Regions from separate parts of the Homo sapiens genome. Here region 1 is linked to region 2. Evidence: fine-mapped expression QTL. Tissue or cell type: whole blood. Region 2 holds a variant in brackets; the other region holds the start of a gene. All regions are shown on one strand. Distances are from middle to middle.

Region 1 (9,620 bases), 22 kb before region 2:
AGGATTACAGGCATGAGCCACCACGCCTGGCCAAAATTTTTTTAAAAAGAAAAAACAATTAAAAAGAAATTTATTTCTCACAGTTCTGGAGGCTGGGGAGACCAAGATCAAGATGCCAGCAGATTTGGTGCCTGGTGAAGGTTGCCTTCTGCTTCCAAAATGGTGCCTTCTTGCTGTGTCCTCACGAGGCAGAAGTGGAAGGGTCGAGCTAGTTCCCTCAAGCCCTTTTTTTGAGACAGTCTTGCTCTGTTGCCCAGGCTGGAGTGCAGTGGCACGATCTCGGCTCACTGCAACCTCTACCTCTTAGGCTCAAGTGATTCTCTTGCCTTAGCCCCCCGAGTAGTTGGGATTACAGGCACCCGATACCACACCTGGCTATTTTTTGTATTTTTTAGTAGACAGGGTTTCACCATGTTAGCCAGGCTGGTCTTGAACTCCTGGCCTTAAATGATCCACCTGCCTCCCCAAATGCTGGGATGATTGGCGTGAGTGACTGTGCCCAGCCCCTCAAGCCTTTTTTTTTTTTTTTTTTGAGATGGAGTCTCACTCTGTCGCTCAGGCTGGAGTGTAGTGGCATGATCTGAGTTAACTGCAACCTCCGCCTCCCGGGTTCAAGCGATTCTCCTCCCTCAGCCTCCCGAGTAGCTGGGATTACAGGCACATGCCACCATGCCCGACTAATTTTTTGTATTTTTAGTAGAGATGGGGTTTCACCGTGTTAGCTAGGATGGTCTCGATCTCCTGACCTTGTGATCCGCCCGCCTCGGTCTCCCAAAGTGCTGGGATTACAGGCGTGAGCCACTGCGCCCATCCTCAAGCCCTTTTTATAAGGGTATGAATTCCATTAATGAGGGTAGAGCCCTCTTGGCCTAATCACCTCGAAAAAGGCTCCACCTCTTACGACCACCACAATGGAGACTAACCATGGCACCAATCCACTTGTGTCTTGCAGGACATCGTGTGTATTTTGCTTGATGAATATCAGTTACTGAGTTTTGTAATTCCAGATCTATCTAAACACCACTCATCAAATCCTGCCAGCACCCCGGTATAATCCTTAAAGACAACAAACATTTCCTTTGTGAGCTAAACTGTCTCTCCTGACTTGTGAACTTCACAGGATGGTTGAGAGGGTCAAAGGAGGTGATAGTCCCAGCAAATGGTTCCTGTTGAACTCTTACTCTATGCGGTGCTAAGTGCTCCACGTGCATCAGCTCACTGGTACCCCAGCAACTCCAAGAAGGGACTGTTGTGATCCCCACTTTACAGTTAGGGAAACTGAGTCCCAGAAAGGTGGCATCACATTTCCAGAGCCACTCAGCTAGGAAGAAAGGGAACAAACCAGGTTGTGATTTATAATCCCAACCTCCTCTTCTCCCTCCCAACTCCTGATGCTGCAAAGCCTCTGGAGACAGCAGAGCTGCCCCTTTGTCCCACGTGGCTGCGCCCTGATGAACACACCGGACTTGTCCAAGGCAGCCTCTTGGTCCTCAGGGTCAGCTGGAGAAGCATTTCAATTAGACAGACAGCATGGCCCTGGGTGCCAGGCTGCTTGTTAGACGGCCCTTGGAGAGATGCCGGGACAGCCTGACTCTTTCGGGCAGTGGTGGTGACATTCCTTGTGGTGGGACTTTCCTGCCTTAGGCCAGGCCTCTTCAGCCTGGGGTATGTGACCCTCTGAGGTAGGTGAAGACTTCCTAAGGGTGCATAAGAGTGGATCACTCTAAGGATCCTAATTCCAGAAACTCAACCTCTTTCTTCTTTCCTCCCTGGGTATGGCACCGGTGGCCCCAGCGGCCCCATGCTCCTTCTCATTTCCCCTTTCCCATTGGACTCTGGCTACTTGGAAAGGGGAAAAGTCACTTAGTAATTTCTTCCTATGGATATATGAAGTAAATGGAAAAAAAAAAGAGAACCCCAACCATCCTATTAAGAGATACATTTTCCATACACTTTTAGTTATTTAATTACTTATAAAAAGTTTGTGGGCTAAGAGTGGTGGTTCACATCTGTAATCCCAGCACTTTGGGAGGCCGAGGCAGGCGGATCACTTGAGGTCAGGAGTTCCAGACCAGCCTGGCCAACACGGTGAAACTGCATCTCTACTAAATCTCTACTAAAACTACAAAAAGTAGGCCGAGCGCGGTGGCTACACCTGTAATCCCAGCACTTTGGGAGGCCGAGGTGGGCAGATCACGAGGTCAAGAGTTCGAGACCAGCCTGGCCAACATGGTGAAACCCCGTCTCTACTAAAAACAGATGGGCATGGTAGTGCACACCTGTAATCCCAGCTACTGGGGAGGCTGAGGCAGGAGAATGGCTTGAACCCAGGAGGCAGAGGTTGCAGTGAGCGGAGATCATGCCACTGCACTCCAGCCTGGGTGACAAAGCGAGACTCCATCTCAAAAAAAAAAAAAAAAAAAAAATAGCTGGGCATCGTGATGCACACGTGTAATCCCAGCTACTCGGAGGCTGAGGCAGGAGAATTGCTTGAACCTAAGAGGCAGAGGCTGCAGTGAGCTGAGATCATGCCACTGCACTCTGCACTCCAGCCTGGGCAACAGAGTGAGCTGCTGTCTCAAAAAAAAAAAAAGTTTAAGCCACTTCCCACGGCCAACTTCTATTCTTTTTTTTTTTCTTCTTTTTTTTGAGACGGAGTCTTGCTCTGTCGCCCAGGCTGGAATGCAGTGGCGCAATCTTGGCTCACTGCAACCTCTGCCTCCTGGGTTCAAGCCATTTTCCTGTCTCAGCCTCCCGAGTACCTGGGATTACAGGCGCGCACCACCACACCTGGCTAATTTTTGTATTTTTTGTAGAGACGGGATTTCACCATGTTGGCCAGGCTGGTCTCGAACTCCTGACCTCAGGTGACCTGCCTGCCTCGGCCTCCCAAAGTCCTGGGATTACAGGCATGAGCCAGTGCACCTGGCCCTTCCATTCATTCTTTAGATCGCAACTGAGATAGGGAGGAGAAGATCCCTCCCCACCCACAGGCCTCTGTGCATCCTGCATTACAGCCTTGGCCCACCCTGGACATAAGCTGCCTGCTTGCTCATCTGTCTCCCTGACTAGTTACCTGGACCACGGCAACAGCCTCTTCACTGGCTCTCTGCCTTCCATTTCTTGTGAACCCAGCAGCCAGAATGATCTCTGATCTGACCATGTTGCTTCCTGTGTAAAACCCTCTGTGGCTCCCTATTACCCCCCAGAACAGAGGCCAAACTCCTTACAACATTCGCAAGGACTTCACCTTCCAGTCTCTGCCTGATTCTTCATCCCTATCTCTCACCACCTTCCGCCATGTGGAATCCTTTCAGTTCTCCAAACTGACTGTTGTTTTCTGCCTAAAACACTCTACTCATTTTTTGCCTGGCCTAACTCCCTCAGTGCCCAGCTTAGACAAAAGCCTTCCCTGTACCACTGTCCGATACTTCTCTGCCCACTCAGCATTGAGTCTCACCCCTTTGTCGGCCTCCCCCATAGACCGTCAGCTCTGAGAGGGCAGGGGCCAACTCCGTCCCCTCCTCTGCTGTCGTTCCTGGCATCCAGCAAGGGGCCTGCCACCTAGCGTGCTGAATGAAAGAATGGACCTCGGGATTTCAGTGTGGAAGCCTGGGCAGGTCTGTCTTGGGGCCGCTGCATCCCCAGTGCTCAGTCTAGGGCGCAGCACGGAGAGTTCGCAACTGTTTCAGGAAGAAGGCAGGCGGGTGGGCCGACCCAAGAAACGCACATTATACCTCCGGCGAAGTGAAGGGAGGGATAACAAAGCAAAGCTTGAGGGCTCCGAGAAGCTCTGAAGAAAACAAATCCAGCCATAAGCCCACTCCTGTAACCCCAGGCTTTGGAAGACGGAGGCAGGTAGATCGCTTGAGGTCAGGAGTTCGAGACCAGCTTGGGCCACATGGCGAAACCCCGTCTCTACTAAAAACACAAAAGTTGGCTGGGCGTGTTGGCGGGCACCTATAATCCCAGCTACTCCAGCAGCTGAGATGGGAGAATCGCTTGAACCTGGGAGGAAGAGTTTGCAGCGAGCCGAGATCCTGCCACTGCGCTCCAGCCGGGGCGACAGAGCCAGACCCTGTCCCCAATATACATATCAGATAAGAAAAAAATATAAGAAAGTTTAAAAAAATTTTTTTTGGCTTTTTTTTGTTTTTTTTGAGACGGAGTCTCGCTCTGTCGTCCAGGCTGGAGTGCAGTGGCACGATCTCGGCTCACTGCAAGCTCCGCCTCCCAGGTTCACGCCATTCTCCTGCCTCAGCCTCCCGAGTAGCTGGGACTACAGGCGCCCGCCACCATGCCCGGCTGATTTTTTCTATTTTTCGTAGTGATGGGATTTCACTGTGTTAGCCAGGATGGTCTTGATCTCCTGACCTCGTGATCCGCCTGCCTCGGCCTCCCAAAGTGCTGGGATTACAGGCGTGAGCCGCCGCGCCCGGCCAGCCTTTTTTTTTTTTTTTGAGACAGTTTCGCTCTTGTCGCCCAGGCTGGAGTGCAGTGGCACGATCTCGGCTAACTGCAACCTCCGCCTCCTGGGTTCAAGAGATTCTCCTGCCTCAACCTCCCGAGTAGCTGGGATTACAGGCGCCCGCCACCACACCCATCTAATTTTTTGTATTTTTAGTAGAGACGGGGTTTCGCCACGTTGAGCAGGCTGGTCTCGAACTCCTGACATCAGGTGATCCGCCCGCTTCAGCTTCCCAAAGTGCTGGGATTACAGGCGTGAGCCACGGCGCCCGGCCAAAAAAAAAAAATTTTTTTTTTTTTTTTTAGATATTTTTTCACTCTTGTTGCCCAGGCTGGAGTGCAATGGCGTGATCTCGGCTCGGCCTCCCAAAGTCCTGGGATTACAGGCGTGAGCCACCGCGCCCGGCCCGAAAAAATTTTTTTAAAAGAAAAGGGAAACAAAACAGTCTCCTACACCTTCGGACCACTCCCAAGAACGATGGCACCGCCCTCCTCTCCGCCCCTCACCAACATGGCCGCCCCCAAGGGAGTGGGCGGGTCTGCGGGGCGGAAGTGACGCACGAGAGGAAGTCCGTCCTGCCGCTTGGCCGCGGGGCGCCTGGCTCAGTGGCTTCTGCGGGCTTCGAGGAGCGGGATGTTGCGGGCTGGGTGGCTCCGGGGCGCGGCGGCGCTGGCGCTGCTGCTGGCGGCCCGAGTGGTGGCGGCGTTCGAGCCCATCACCGTGGGCCTAGCCATCGGGGCCGCGTCGGCCATCACCGGCTACCTGTCCTACAATGACATCTACTGCCGCTTCGCCGAGTGCTGCCGCGAGGAGCGGCCGCTCAACGCTTCGGGTACGGCGCGCGCGCGAGCTGTGGGTCGGCGCTGCGGGGGGCGCGGGGGCGCGGGGGCGCGGAGGGACGGCCTCGTGGGCGCCTGGCACGGACCGGGCCCGTGGCATCTAGACGGCGGTGGTCCCAGCTGGGGTGGGCGGGGAGCGGATGGGGCGGCCCCGGAACCGTTCGCGGGAACGCAGAAGCGGTGCCTTCGCAAACAGTCTCCAGATCGTGGGGCTGCCCCAGCGCCTTTCTAAAGCTCCCGTTCCTTGGGATCACAGGTGGAAGAAACGGAAAGTAGGCGGGCGGCCCTTCTGCGCCCTGCCAACCCTATTAAGTAGTTTTCAGACGTGCTGCGTCGCCCAGAAAGCCCACATTTGGCCCCTGGTTTTCCTGCAGGTCAGCAAGGGTGGCTGGGATTAGCAAGCGCTCAGTCAAGCGATGGTTCATCTCTGAATGAATGAACATTTAGCTTCCTTATCAGACCCCGAAGCGTTAAGGACCTCCACATAATCTTGAAAGTGGCATCGTTTGACTGCCTCGGCCCTAGGGTGTGGCAGACACCCTGCTGTGTCCCTGGATAATCTGTGCTTCTTGCTTTGGCCAGCTAAGAAAGTGCTGCGTTGCTGATGCATTTTTAAGGTCTGTTTCTCTCTTTGTTCTGGGGCTGTTCTTGCAGCTCTCAAGCTGGATTTGGAGGAGAAGCTGTTTGGACAGCATCTAGCCACGGAAGTGATTTTCAAGGCGCTGACTGGCTTCAGGAACAACAAAAATCCCAAGAAACCACTGACCCTTTCCTTACACGGCTGGGCTGGCACAGGCAAGAATTTTGTCAGTCAAATTGTGGCTGAAAATCTTCACCCAAAAGGTCTGAAGAGTAACTTTGTCCACCTGTTTGTATCGACTCTGCACTTCCCTCATGAGCAGAAGATAAAACTGTACCAGGCAAGAGAACCCGCTATTATCTCGTCTGCAGGCCAGTCGGACTGGTCCGGGTGACCTGCTCACTAACTCTGGCCTCTGCTTCTCTTTCCTTTGTGTTGCTGTAGCCCCCGGCTCCACTGAGTTAAGGCACACTTAGTCCAGGTAGTTACAAAGCTCTCCTACAACATTTCTCTTACTTGGTTCCAAAACAGTCCAGTGGGGTAGGGGATGTTATTTCCATTAAAAGATGGGGAGCCAAGGGCCTGGCGCCGTGGCTCACGCCTGTAATCCCAGCATTTTGGGGAAGCCGAGGCGGGCGGATCATTTGAGGCCAGGAGTTTGAGACCAGCCTGGCCAACATGGTGAAACCCCATCTCTACCTAAAAGTACCAAAATTACCTGAGCACGGTGGCACGCACCTGTAATCCCAGCTACTTGGGAGGCTGAGGCAGGAGAATCGCTTGAACCTGGGTGGCAGAGGTTGCAGTGAGCTGAGATCGCGCCACCGTACTCGGTCTCAAAAAAAAAAAAAAAAAAAAGGCCTGGCACAGTGGCTCACGCCTGTAATCCCAGCACTTTCGGAGGCCGAGGGGGGCGGATCACGAGGTCAGGAGATGGAGACCATCCTGGCTAACACGGTGAGACCCCGTCTCTACTAAAAATACAAAAAATTAGCCGGGGATGGTGGCGGGCACCTGTTGTCCCAGCTACTCGGGAGGCTGAGGCAGGAGAATGGCCTGAACCCGGGAGGCGGAGCTTGCACTGAGCCGAGATCGCGCCACTGCACTCCAGCCTGGGCGACACAGTGAGACTCTGTCTCAGAAAAAAAAAAAAAAAAGAGAGATGTAGTCAGGGCCAGGTGCAGTGGCTCACGCCTGTAATCCCAGCACTTTGGGATCCGCCAAGGCGGGCGGATCACCTGAGGTCGGGAGTTCGAGACCAGCCTGACCAACATGGAGAAACCCCGTCTCTACTGAAAATACAAAATTAGCCGGGCGTGATGGCGTGCGCCTGTAATTCAAGCTACTTGGGAGGCTGAGGTTGCAGTCAGCTGAGAATGGGCCACTGCACCCCAGCCTGGGCAACAGAATGAGACTCTGTCTCAAAAAAAAAGAAAAAAAAAAAAGATGGAGCCTGGAGCCCAGAGGCAAGGTGACTTACTCCTACAATCTTTGTAGCAGAACAGGACCTTTGTAGCAGAACCAAAACCTCCCAACTCCCAGTTGACATGGTAGCCACCTTCTCTGGTGAGTGAAGGGATTCCACATCCCCAGCAGTGCAGTTGGTGAGAAGGGGCAGTCAGTCTTCAAGGATTTGCTCCGGTGTGGCTTCATTCAATGCTGCCCACCTCTGGTGCAGCCTCAGCTTTGCCTCTGCTCTTTGCAATGTAGCCTAGAGGTCTTTTTTCTCCTTAACAGGTTTTATTCCCTTTGTTCCTCCCATCCTTCATGTCCTTGGCATTGCTTTCTTCAAAGGAAGCCTCAAAGAACTGAACCTTGAGACTGTTTCTCCTTTTGAGATATTGTTTCCACATTCATTTTATATTAAGTTGTCTAGGAGGGTTAGTTCTCATTTAAATGAATGTTGTCCTTGTCAAGGTTAACATTCCCACTGGCAACATAGCAAGACTCCATCTCTACAAAAAATAAAAAAATTAGCCAGGTGTAGTGGCATGCACCTGTAGTCCCAGCTACTTGGGAGGCTGAGATGGGAGGATCGCTTGAGCCCGGGAGGCTGAGCCTACAATGAACCATGGTCATGTCACTGCATTCCAGTCTGGGCGACAGAGTAAGACTCTATCTCAAAAAAAAAAAAAAAAAATTCCTCCTGTTAGGTGGGGACTGAAGAAAGAAATAGAAACTTAACTGAACAAGGAAGTAGAAGTGTTTGCCCAACAAACTGACGTGAGACAGGGAAGACTGCTAAAAAGGAAGGAAGGAAGGATTTTCTTGTTCTTTACATTCTTCATAAATCTCCGGAAACAGAGTAATATAAATGGTTGAGGGCATGTCTGGGGGAGTTTCCTGGTATAGCCTTTCACGCTTTGGGGTTGAGGGCTTGTTGCTTGAGTGTCTTTATGTTTGTTTGAAGAAAACATCTGGAACAGATGCTTTTCATGAAATGTCATTGAGTCAGCTCTGTTGGTCTGGGGCACTGTGTACTGTGCAGGTCTTGATCTAGTTCCTTATTCCTCAGTATGTCTGATAGTACTAACTTGAGATTGTAGTCCAAGAGAGATGAAAACTATGGCTACGTTAGCAGTGAATGATATTCACGGATCTTGCCGGGTGGCTCATTCCTGTAATCTCAGCACTTTGGGAGGGTGAGGTGGGTGGATCACCTGAGGTCAGGAGTTTGAGACGAGCCTGGCCAACATGGCACAACCCTGTCTCTACTAAAAATACAAAAATTAGCCAGGCATGGTGCAGGGGATCGGGGCGCCTGTAGTCCCAACTACACGGGGGGCTGAGGCCGGGGAATCGCTTGAACCCAAGAGGCAGAGGTTGCAGTGAGCTGAGATCACGCCACTACACACCAGCCTGGGGGATAGAGTGAGACCCTGTTTCCAAAGACAAAAAAGAGAAGAAAAGAATCACGGATCTTGTACCTCTTATACCTTTAAAAAGTCAGATTTAATAGTCATTTGAGTTAGGAAAAAACTTCTCTGCATTTTAGCATCTATCTCTGCCAATTTCCACTTTTTAGAGATAAGGTTTTAGAAAAGCTGCTACCTAGCGAGTGGGGGTGAGGGTGCCATTCTAAGAGCTCTGACCTCGTCCTTCAGTGCATGAGGAGCAGATGGAGCCTGCGCGCCTCTTGGTGCACCCTTTGAGCTTCGCATCCTGTTTCTTCTTTCATGGTTGGTCCAGGACCAGTTACAGAAGTGGATCCGCGGTAATGTGAGTGCATGTGCGAACTCTGTTTTCATATTTGACGAGATGGATAAATTGCACCCCGGGATCATTGACGCAATCAAGCCGTTTCTAGACTACTACGAGCAGGTTGACGGAGTGTCTTACCGCAAAGCCATCTTCATCTTTCTCAGGTCAGCGGGAGGCGGTTTTTTGGGGCACACAAGCCCTTCATTCTCTCAATGATAAAATGAGGTCCTGAGGACCATCAGCACTTTGTTTACCAGGACGAAAGTGCCTGCTTGGCACAAGGCACTTACCTACTGCTTTACTTTTCCTTTGCCAGTCTCAGCATGGCACACAGTGTGGGTTGTGGAAATGAACTAAAGAAATAATCACTGGGCCAGGCGCGGTGGCTCACACCTGTAATCCCAGCACTTTGGGAGGCCATGGCGGGCGGATCACCAGGAGATCGAGACCATCCTGGCTAACATGGTGAAACCCTGTCTCTACTAAAAATACAAAAATTAGCCGGGCGTGGTGGCGGGCGCCTGTAGTCCCA
Region 2 (9,620 bases):
CAGTTATTGTTAGTGAAGCCTCAATTCTAAGATGATCAACTTATCCTGATTCGTCTAGAATGGTTCTTGTTTGTTTGGGACAGGGTCTCACTCCGTCACCCAGGCTGGACTGCAGTGGCTGTCTGCTCACTGCAGCCTCGACCTCCCAGGTTCAAGCCATCCTTCTGCCTCAGCCCCCTAAGTAGCTGGGACTACAGGTGCATGCCACCATGCCTGACTAATTTTTTTGTATTTTTTTAGTAGAGATGGGGTTTCACCATGTTCCCCAGGCTGGTCTGGAACTCTTGAGCTCAAGGGATCAGCCGGTTTTGGCTTCCCGTAGTGCTAGAATTATAGGCATGAGCCACCACACCCGTGGAACATTCGCATTTTAGTACAGAACCGCTGGACAGTGGGTGACCCACACGCTCACCCAGACAGAAGGGAAAAATGTGTTCACATTTTTCCATAGATACAGTCAGGGATAAATAACTGATTGAGGCCAGGCATGGTGGCTCATACCTGTAATTTCAGCACTTTGGGAAGTAGAGACAGCTGGATGACCTTGAGGTCAGGAGTTTGAGACCAGCCTGGCCAACAAGGTGAAACCCTGTCTCTATTAAAAATACAAAAATTAGCTGGGTGTGGTGGCAGGTGCCTGTAATACCAGCTACTTGGGAGGCTGAGGCAGCAGAATCACTTGAATCCGGGAGGCAGAGTTTGCGGTGAGCCGAGATCAAGATCCAGATGGTGCTACTGCACTCCAGCCTGGGTGACAAGAATGAAACTCAGTCTCAAAAATAAATAAATAAATAATTGACTGTTTTGCCCATCTTGCAGGTCTGCTACAAGGATCTAAAAGGCAACAGTTAACATTTATTTGTAACATGCACCAGGTACATGTTATGCACTTGACAGACAGAGCTCCCTGGATTGTTACAAGCAACACTTTGTAAGTCAGAATCTGAGTCTCAGGTCAGGCAACTTTCCTAAGACTACGGAGCTGGGAGAGTGTTAGGACTCAAATCCAGATGTGTCTGCTGCCAAAGCCCAAGCTGCTCATCAGTGAGTTCAACCATAAAAGCTGTTTGCGGCTGGGCAAGGTGGCTCACGCCTGTAATCCTAGCACTCTGGGAGGCTGAGGTAGGCAGATCACTTGAGGTCAGGAGTTCGAGACCAGCCTGGCCAATGTGAGGAAACCCCATCTCTACTAGAAATACAAAAATTAGCCGGCTGTGGTGGCACATGCCTGTAGTCACAGCTACTTGGGAGGCTGAGGCAGGAGAATCGCTTGAACCGGGAAGGTGGAGGCTGTAGTGAGCTGAGATGGCGTCACTGCACTCCAGCCTGGACAACAGAGTGAGACCCTGACTCAAAGAAAAAAAAAAAAAGGCAGTTTACAACAGTAGGTTCAACAAACTTAGGACTCTACATGTTTCCTCTTTCACAAAATGAGTGAGATGTGGCCAGGCATGGTGGCTCACGCCTGTAATCCCAGCACTTCGGGAAGCTGAGGCAGGCACATCACCTGAGATCAGGAGTTCGAGACCAGCCTGGCCAAGTTGGCAAAACCCCATCTCTACTAAAAATACAAAAATTAGCTGGGCATGGTGGCAGGACCCTGTAATCCCAGCTACCCGGGAGGCTGAGGCAGGATAATTGCTTCAACCGGGAGGCAGAGGTTGCAGTGAGCTGAGATCATGCCATTGCACTCCAGCCCGGGTAAGAAGAGTGAAACTCCGTCTCAAAATAAAGAAAAAAATAAAAAAATGAGTGAGATGTGTTGATCTCTAAGATGGATTTGATCATGTCCACCTCTAAAATCCCATGACCCTACATACTCACTGGACCGATTTTCAGAACCCACCACAAAGCTTTGATGGTATTAACTGCTCCACGCATCTCAAACTCTTAACTTCTACACCTTTCCAAGGGGAACTGAGACATGAACCGTTTTCCGGGCTCACTCATTTCAACATAGAACTCCCAAATCTCATCCCACAACAAAGAGACCCCAAACCCGATGACATCCAGGAAGGGATTCCAAACTTCCATCCTTGCCTTGTACAAGGTGATGTTTGAAGCATGTGGAAAGTGCAATGTGGCCACAAACAGGTGGACATAGTCACTGTTCAGACCACCCTCGTAAATATTCTCTGCGATGATCTTGCTGACGAAATTTTTGCCGGTGCCTGTCCACCCGTGCAGGGAGAGCGTGAGAGGTTTCTTGGGCTTTGGGTTGTTTATGAAACCAAACACGGCATTTAAGATGATTTTCTTTGCAAGATGCTGTCCAAAGAGGTTGTCGTCCAGATCCTTCTGCAGTGCTGGGAAAGACAAAGCCAATCAGGAGTGGGGAAGAAACAGCGGCAAAATGTAGCCACATTTACAGCCCATAAGAAAGCCAGCAAAGCCGTCTAGACGCCCTCCAAGCACCTTGCGAAACCTCAAGTACTGCGGTCTGTAAGCTCCTGGCCCAGAGGGGACGGCGGTCCAGGGAGCCCTCCCTTTGCTGGTCCTGCCTATTCTAAAGCCCTGGCCCGACTCCTTCCCGAAAAGCCCCTTGGTGCCACTGCCACTGCCACCAGTTTGCACCCCTAACCCCTGTGCTGCTCCTCCCACCCCAAGGCAGAGCCGGGAAAGGAAACAGTTTGGTCCCTCCTGGTCGGCTGCGGAAGAGTCCTCACCATCCTTCCTGTCTCCCGCTAGGCTAGAAAGGAGGCAGAACCCACTTCGGAGGGAGGTTACCACTGGTCCACCCCCAGCTTAGCGCAAAGTAGGCCAACCTGCAGCCTGGCTCCTCAGGTCTCCGACTTAAGTCTGGCACGTCTGTGGTCATGGCCGAGGAGCCAGGCCTCATCCTGCAGGCCGGCCGCTTGGCTTCCGGGGTCCGGCCCCCGCGGACTCAGCTCTGCCCAGGCCCGGCCCTCCTGGGATGTGACCCCTACCCCGGCCTGGCCCTAGTGCCATCCCCCAGCCCCAGCCCCAGCCCCAGCCCCCGCTCCTGAGCCCCAGCCCCCAAACTCCGCTCCAGCCCCAGTCCTAGCCCGGCCCTACTGCCATCCCCCAGCCTCCATCCACCATCCTCAATCCCCTAGCCCCAGCCAACCGCCCTGGTCTTAACCCAGCCCTAGTGCGATCCCCCAGCCCCACCCCCAGCCCCCGGGCCCCGCTCCATCCCCCAGCCCCAGCCCCAGCCCCAACCCGGCCCTAGTGCCATCGCCCAGCCCCAGCCCCCAGGCCCCGCTCCAGCCCTAGTCCTAGCCCGGCCCTGGTGCCATCCCCCGGCCTCCATCCTCCATTCTCCATGCCCTGGTCCTAGTTCAGCCCTAGTGCCATCGCCCAGCCCCAGCCCCAGCCCCAGCCTCCAGCCCCCGCCCCAGCCTACCCTCCCGGCTAAGGCTCCGCTTCTGCCCGCAGCACTCGGCGAAGAGGCAGTAGAGACGCGGGTAGATGTAGCCGGTGAGGACGCCGGCCAGGGCCAGTCCCAGGCTGATGGGCTCCACCGCCTGCACCACGGACGGCGCCAGCAGCAGCAGGCCCAGCACGGCCCGGCCCAGCTTCATGCCCGGACCCGCGCCACCCTGCTTGTTCTCGCGCCGACCGCGAACCGGTGCAGCCGCCAGACCCACGCTTCCGGTTCCTCCTCTCGCGGAGGCCATCTTTCTTCAGGGCAGCCCTCCTCCCGACGCCGGCGGCCGCCATCTTTGTTCGGTACAAAGCCCTGTTTTGCTTCCGGAAACTCGGTTCTGCTCCGCCCCTGTTGGCCACGTGTTTTTGTTTATGGACGTTATTTTTGCCAGGCATGGTGGCTCCTGCCTGTAATCCCAGCCCTTTGGGAGGCTGAGGCGGGCGGATCACCTGAGGTCAGGAGTTCGAGACCAGCCTGACCAACATGGTGAAACCACGTCTCTACTAAAAATATAAAATTAGCCGGGTGTGGTGGTAGGCACCTGTAGCCCTAGCTACTGGGGAGGCTGACACATGAGAATCGCTTGAACCCAGGAGGCGGAGATTGCAGTGAGCCGAGATCTCACCACTGCACTCCAGCCTGGGAGACAGAGCAAGACTGTGTCCCCTCCCCGCAAATAATAATAATAATAATAATAATAATAACGGACGTTATTTTTTAGAACAGATTTACAGAAAAATTGAGAAGATAGTAGAGAGTTCCCATGTGCCACCCATCCCTGCAATTTCCCCTATTACTAAAATCTTACATTATTAGTGTGCTACATTTGTTAAAATTAACGATGCACTGTTGTCATATTAACTAAAGTGTAGTTTATTCAGATTTCCTTCCTTTTACTTAATGCCTTTTTCTGCTGCAGGTTTCCATTCAGGATACCACATTATATTTCGTTGTCATGTCTTAGACTACTGTTAATGACAGTGTCTCAGCCTTTTATTTTTATTTTAGCTGGAGTGCAGTGGCATGATCTCAGCTCACTGCAACCTCTGCCTCCCAGGTTCAAGCGATTCTCCTGTCTCAGCCTCCTGAGCAGCTGGGATTACAGGCACACACCACCATGCCCGGCTAATTTTTGTATTTTTGGTAGAGACGGGGTTTCACCATGTTGGCCAGGATGGTCTTGATCTGACCTCATGATCTGCCCGTCTCAGCCTCCCAAAGTGCTGGGATTACAGGCGTGAGCCACCGCGCCTGGCCTCAGCTTTTTATTTTTGATGACCTTGATAGTTTTGAGGAGTACTGGCCAAATCTTTGGTGGGCTGGCCCTCTATTGGGATTTGATGTTTTTCTCAGGATTAGACAAGCGTTATGGCGTTTTGGAAGGAAGATCACAGAGGTAAAGTGCTATGCTCATCACATCCTACCAAGGAAGGGTTCTTACTGTTCAACGTTACTTACCACTGTTGGTGCTGACTTGATCACTTGACTGAAGTAGTGTTTGTCAGGTCCCCCCACCCCTCTTTTCTCTACTGTACTCTTTGGAAGGACGTCCCCATGCACAGCCCACACGTAAGGAGTCGGGGATTTTGCTCCACCTCCTTGGGGGCAGAGTATCTACAGAAATTATTTGGAATTCTGCATGGGAGATTTGTTTCTTCTCCCCCATGTATTCAATCATTTATATCAGTGTGGACCATTGTTATTTTATCCTTTGTTATACTACAGTACTAATTTTTTTTTCAAATTGTTCTCATTTTGGCCACTGGGAATTTGAGTGGTTCCTTGTGCTCCTTTGACATACACCCAGTGTATATACCAGCTTATTTGGGTTTGAGTGCCTCTTTCCTTTCTGACACTACAGGATACTCCGGGCTCATCTTGTATTTCCTGCCCCAGTCCTAGAATCCTATTTTCTACGAGGAACCCTGATTCCTTTCATTGTAAAATGGCATTAGAAACTGGCTGGGCATGGTGGCTCATGCCTGTAATCCAGCATTTTGGGAGGCTGAGGCAGGTGCATCACCTGAGGTCAGGAGTTTGGGACCAGCCTGACCAATATGGTGAAACCCC[A/G]TCTCTACTGAAAATACAAAAAAATTAGCTAGGCATGGTTGCGTGTGCCTGTAGTCTCAGCTACATGGGAGGCTGAAACAGGAGAATTCCTTGAACTTGGGAGGTGGAGGTTGCAGTGAGCCGAGATCGCACCACTGCACTCCAGCCTGGGTGACAGAGCGAGACTTCGTATCAAAAAAAAAAAAAAAAAAAAAAAAGAGAAACCAAGGTCTGGGTGCTAGGTGTGCTTCTTGCTATTGAGATGTCATTTCTTTCAGTCTCAGCTGACAGAAAAAAATGTGTGTATATACTGTTAAACACACACATATCTATAAATATTTTTATAGGTAAACATCTGTACCTATATTAAGCTAAACATGAGCTCGTGCTGACATCTCCAACTCTAATCCATTACACAGATCATTGGAGCCTCCTCCCCTTGTTTATCTGTGAATTCCCACCCCAACAGTGAGAGAACCAGCTCCCTCCATCTGGCAGCCACTTTTAAGCTGGATAAAAGATTACTCATTTTCTAGCAAAGGGAACTCTGGCAAGTGAGAACTGTTGACCATCCACTTATTTGCCTGTTCATCCCATAAACACGTGTTGCGTTGCTGTGTGCCAGATGTGCTAGGCCTTTAGTATTCATCTTGGGTTACCCCTGCACATCGCTGGGACCTGTAAATGTTTGTTGAAATATCCTGAAAATATTTTTTAAGTTTCGACTTTTTCGTATTGGATTTAAAATACTTTTGTGCACCTGTTACAAGCCAAACACTATAGGGATCATTCATAGTTTTGAGGACTGCCTATCTGTCAGATTATGGGCTATGCCCTGGGGATTCAAATTTAAAAATTAGGCACACATGGTTCCTGCCTTCACTGACCATATTCAAGTGGAGGAAAAAAAAAAATCTCCATTTTACAGATGAGAAAACTGAGGCTAAGAGTGAAAAGGATCTGTCCAAGGACACAAGTAGTAAGCTGCGAGGTGGGCTCAGATCTGACTCCTGGGCCAAACCACTGTAACCACAATACCTGCTCTAAATCCACCCAGAAGTCAGCCAATCTGCTCTTTCCTCTTTTGGACCCCTGTGGATGCCTCAGGAAAAATGAGGGCACAGGTAAGAAGGTACTTGACAGCAGGTTGCAGCATGTCTATGCTGCAGTGGTCCAATCATAGCTCACTGTTTGAAATAAATGAGAAAATCCATCTCAGTAATTCAGTTTTACATTTAGGCTACCCAAACCATGGGCTTTAAAAACATTACCTGATGCTGGTATAAGAAACATAATACAAACAATAAGGTTGGATTCATTTTGAAATTTAATAATTCTAATAGTAATAAGAAACATAGTTTATGCTTTTTTTTTAATGAAAACAAACAAGTAATTTTGTAAAAGTCAGAAAACACCAGTATCCTTCTGATCTCATCCTGGATTTTTCTGTCAGCTGGAGGATGCATTTCTGACCCCATCCCAGACACGTGAAAGCAGAAGACATGATGCATCTATAATAATGAAAGCACAATCTAAAGAGTATTATCACACCGTGAACAGCTTCTTCCTGACCCAGAGCAAATATTAAGAGAAAGACAATATATTTACAAACAAGATTTAATAATGCTCACAAGAATAGAGTTTGCCCCCAAATGGAAAATTACACATTATTTTGTTTCAAAAAGTTATAAATTTAGTGCTTGAAAAATCCAGCAGGTAAGTAGAAGGACTAACAGGGTCTGTTTCTGGAACTGTCCGCCAGCAAATGAGCATGCTCTGTCCTGGAAGCCATTTTTCTTTTTCTTTTTTTTTTTTTTTTTTTTTTTTGAGACAGAGTTTTTTGCTCGTTGCCCAGGCTGGAGTACAAAGGTGCAATCTCGGCTCACCACAACCTCCGCCTCTTGGGTTCAAGCAATTCTCCTGCCTCAGCCTCCTGAGCAGCTGGGATTACAGGCATGTGCCACCACGCCTGGCTAACTTTTCTGTATTTTCAGTAGAGACTGGGTTTCTCCATGTTGGTCAGGCTGGTCTCAAACTCCCGACCTCAGGTGATCCGCCCACCTCGGCCTCCCAAAGTGCTGGGATTACAGGCAGGAGCCACCACGCCCGGCCAGGAAGCCATTTTTCATGGGAGGGATATAGGGAGAGGAAGGCGATATTTACATCCCACTCTGCACAACTCAGTACCGCCTATTCATTTTCTTGAACTTCTCATAATGATAGTCATCAGTTGCCTTCTCGTTAGCAGGACGCTTGCGGTTAGGAGGGGACCCTGAGAAGGAAAAGAACAGGAAAGGTGGTTTGCCATGCTGGAACCCACTGCTAGACTTTACTCCATGCAGGCAAAGACAACTGCCTGTTTCCTTCCCCACAGGAGCCCCAGCGCCTAACCCAGTGAACACAGTAGGGCCTCAGTAGATACGTATTTGTCTTTTTTTTTTTCTTTTCTTTTCTTTTTTTTGAGATGGAGTCTCACCCTGTTGCCCAGGCTAGAGTGTAATGGCATGATCTCAGCTCACTGCAACCTCCAACTCCCGAGTTCAAGTGATTCTCCTGCCTCAGCCTCCTGAGTAGCTGGGATTACAGGCACCTGCCACCTCACCTGGCTAATTTTTGTATTTTTAGTAGAGACGGGGTTCACCATGTTGGCCAGGCTCGTCTTGAACTCCTGACCTTAGGTGATCTGCCTGCCTCTGCCTCCCAAAGTGCTGGGATTACAGGCATGGGCCACCGAGCATGGCCAATACCTTTTTCTTTTCTTTAAAAAAAAGATGTGGTCTCACTCTGTCACGCAGGCTAGAGTGCAGTGGTCCAATCATAGCTCACTGCAGCCTTGAACTCTTAGTCTCAAGCAATCCTCCTGTCCCAGCTTCCCCAGCAGCTGAGACTACAAGTGTGAGGCACTGCACCCAGCTAACCTTATGAGTAGCTTTTATTTGTCCTTACTGAAATTTTCTAACTTCTTGAGTCTCTACTGTGCGTGAGAATATGAGAGAGTATGAATTCTCAGAGTAATCCTAACAGGTAGGTTCTATTAGGATTCCAATGAGGAAACTGAGGCTTAGAAAGGGGAAGGCACATAGTCATGGTCCAGAGCATGGACTGGAACCCATATGCCCCGGCTCCAATGCCAGGCTCCACCCTGTCCCCCGCTGCATCCTGCCTCCATGGGTTCCCACATTGCTGAGCACTCCAGGCAGCCCCGAGGCCTTTGTTGCACTCACGCTCAGGCTCTGGCTTCTCCGTGTCACCTACTCTCAAGGGCCGGGCCTTGGGCTCTTCTTTGTTTCTCCGTATGGGCGCGTTGAGCTCCTCATGATAAACTGGACCCAAAGAGACCAGGGGACACGTTAGAACATGAGGTTCCTAGGGATCTCAGCCCAAATAGGGGAATGGGGGCAAGACTGCTCTCCGAGGGGCTTACATCTGTTGTGCTGCACATAATTCACAGCCATGTTGGTAGGCACGAAGGAGGTCTCGCTGTCTTTCTTCTTGTTCTGCTGCTCTGCCAGCAGACGGGCCTTGGCATCCTCCGTGGAAATGATATTTTTTATTTTAGCACTATGGAGAGAAAGAAACCACACCACTTAGAAGATGATAGCACCTTACTACTCAGACATGAGTGGTGAGGCTGGCAGCCCAGCAGTACATAAGAAAATCATGTGTCCTGGGGCACAGCTCTCCACTTTATCAAGCACACTTGTAGTCACATTCTCACGGGACTCTCACGGCTGTCGGAGAACCACAGTTACTCTGCTCTTCTGATCAAGAGCAAATTGAGCTTCAGAGAAGTAAAATGCTTAAGGCTCAAAGTTTGTAAAGGCCAGAAAAGAGCCCAGAAGCCTCCCAGCTTTCTACTGTACCAGAAGATTATTCTAACAATTGTACCTCTTCCATAACAATTCCCTTTTAAAGTGGATATTTTAAGAAGGATCATGGGGAGAAGGGGTGAGTGAGCCTTTAACATGGCTCCTGCTAGAAGAAAACAGAAGAATAAAGGGCCTGATACAGCTGAACAGCTGTAACACGCTAAAGAACCACTTTTGCTTCCAGCAGTCAGGGGCCCTTACTACTCTGATCAAGCCTTCAGCGAAACTTCTAGCAACAACCTGCCAGGGACAATCTCATTTGTATTTGTAGGATTCTAAGGACACAGATAAGAACATGGGGTCTCATTACA

What was found.
Region 1: TOR1B starts here. The variant in region 2 is fine-mapped to the expression of TOR1B in whole blood (INTERVAL, PIP above 0.99). The same link has a PIP of 0.9 or more in nasal epithelium.

What each region holds. Positions count from the first base shown.
Region 1 is chr9:129,798,112-129,807,731 of GRCh38, forward strand. It overlaps TOR1B (torsin family 1 member B), which reads left to right and starts at 5,073. Exons shown (of 5, transcript NM_014506.3): 1 at 5,073-5,300; 2 at 5,962-6,227; 3 at 9,077-9,252. The coding sequence starts at 5,102. RefSeq lists silencers at 5,153-5,282, 5,343-5,462.
Region 2 is chr9:129,820,541-129,830,160 of GRCh38, forward strand. It overlaps TOR1A (torsin family 1 member A), which reads right to left and starts at 3,596. Exons shown (of 5, transcript NM_000113.3): 1 at 3,368-3,596; 2 at 2,041-2,306. The coding sequence starts at 3,545. It overlaps C9orf78 (chromosome 9 open reading frame 78), which reads right to left. Exons shown (of 9, transcript NM_016520.3): 7 at 8,865-9,001; 8 at 8,665-8,763; 9 at 6,750-7,712. The coding sequence ends at 7,621. RefSeq lists silencers at 2,981-3,070, 7,510-7,804 and an enhancer at 3,481-3,790. The variant A/G (reference allele first, on the strand shown) is at 5,462.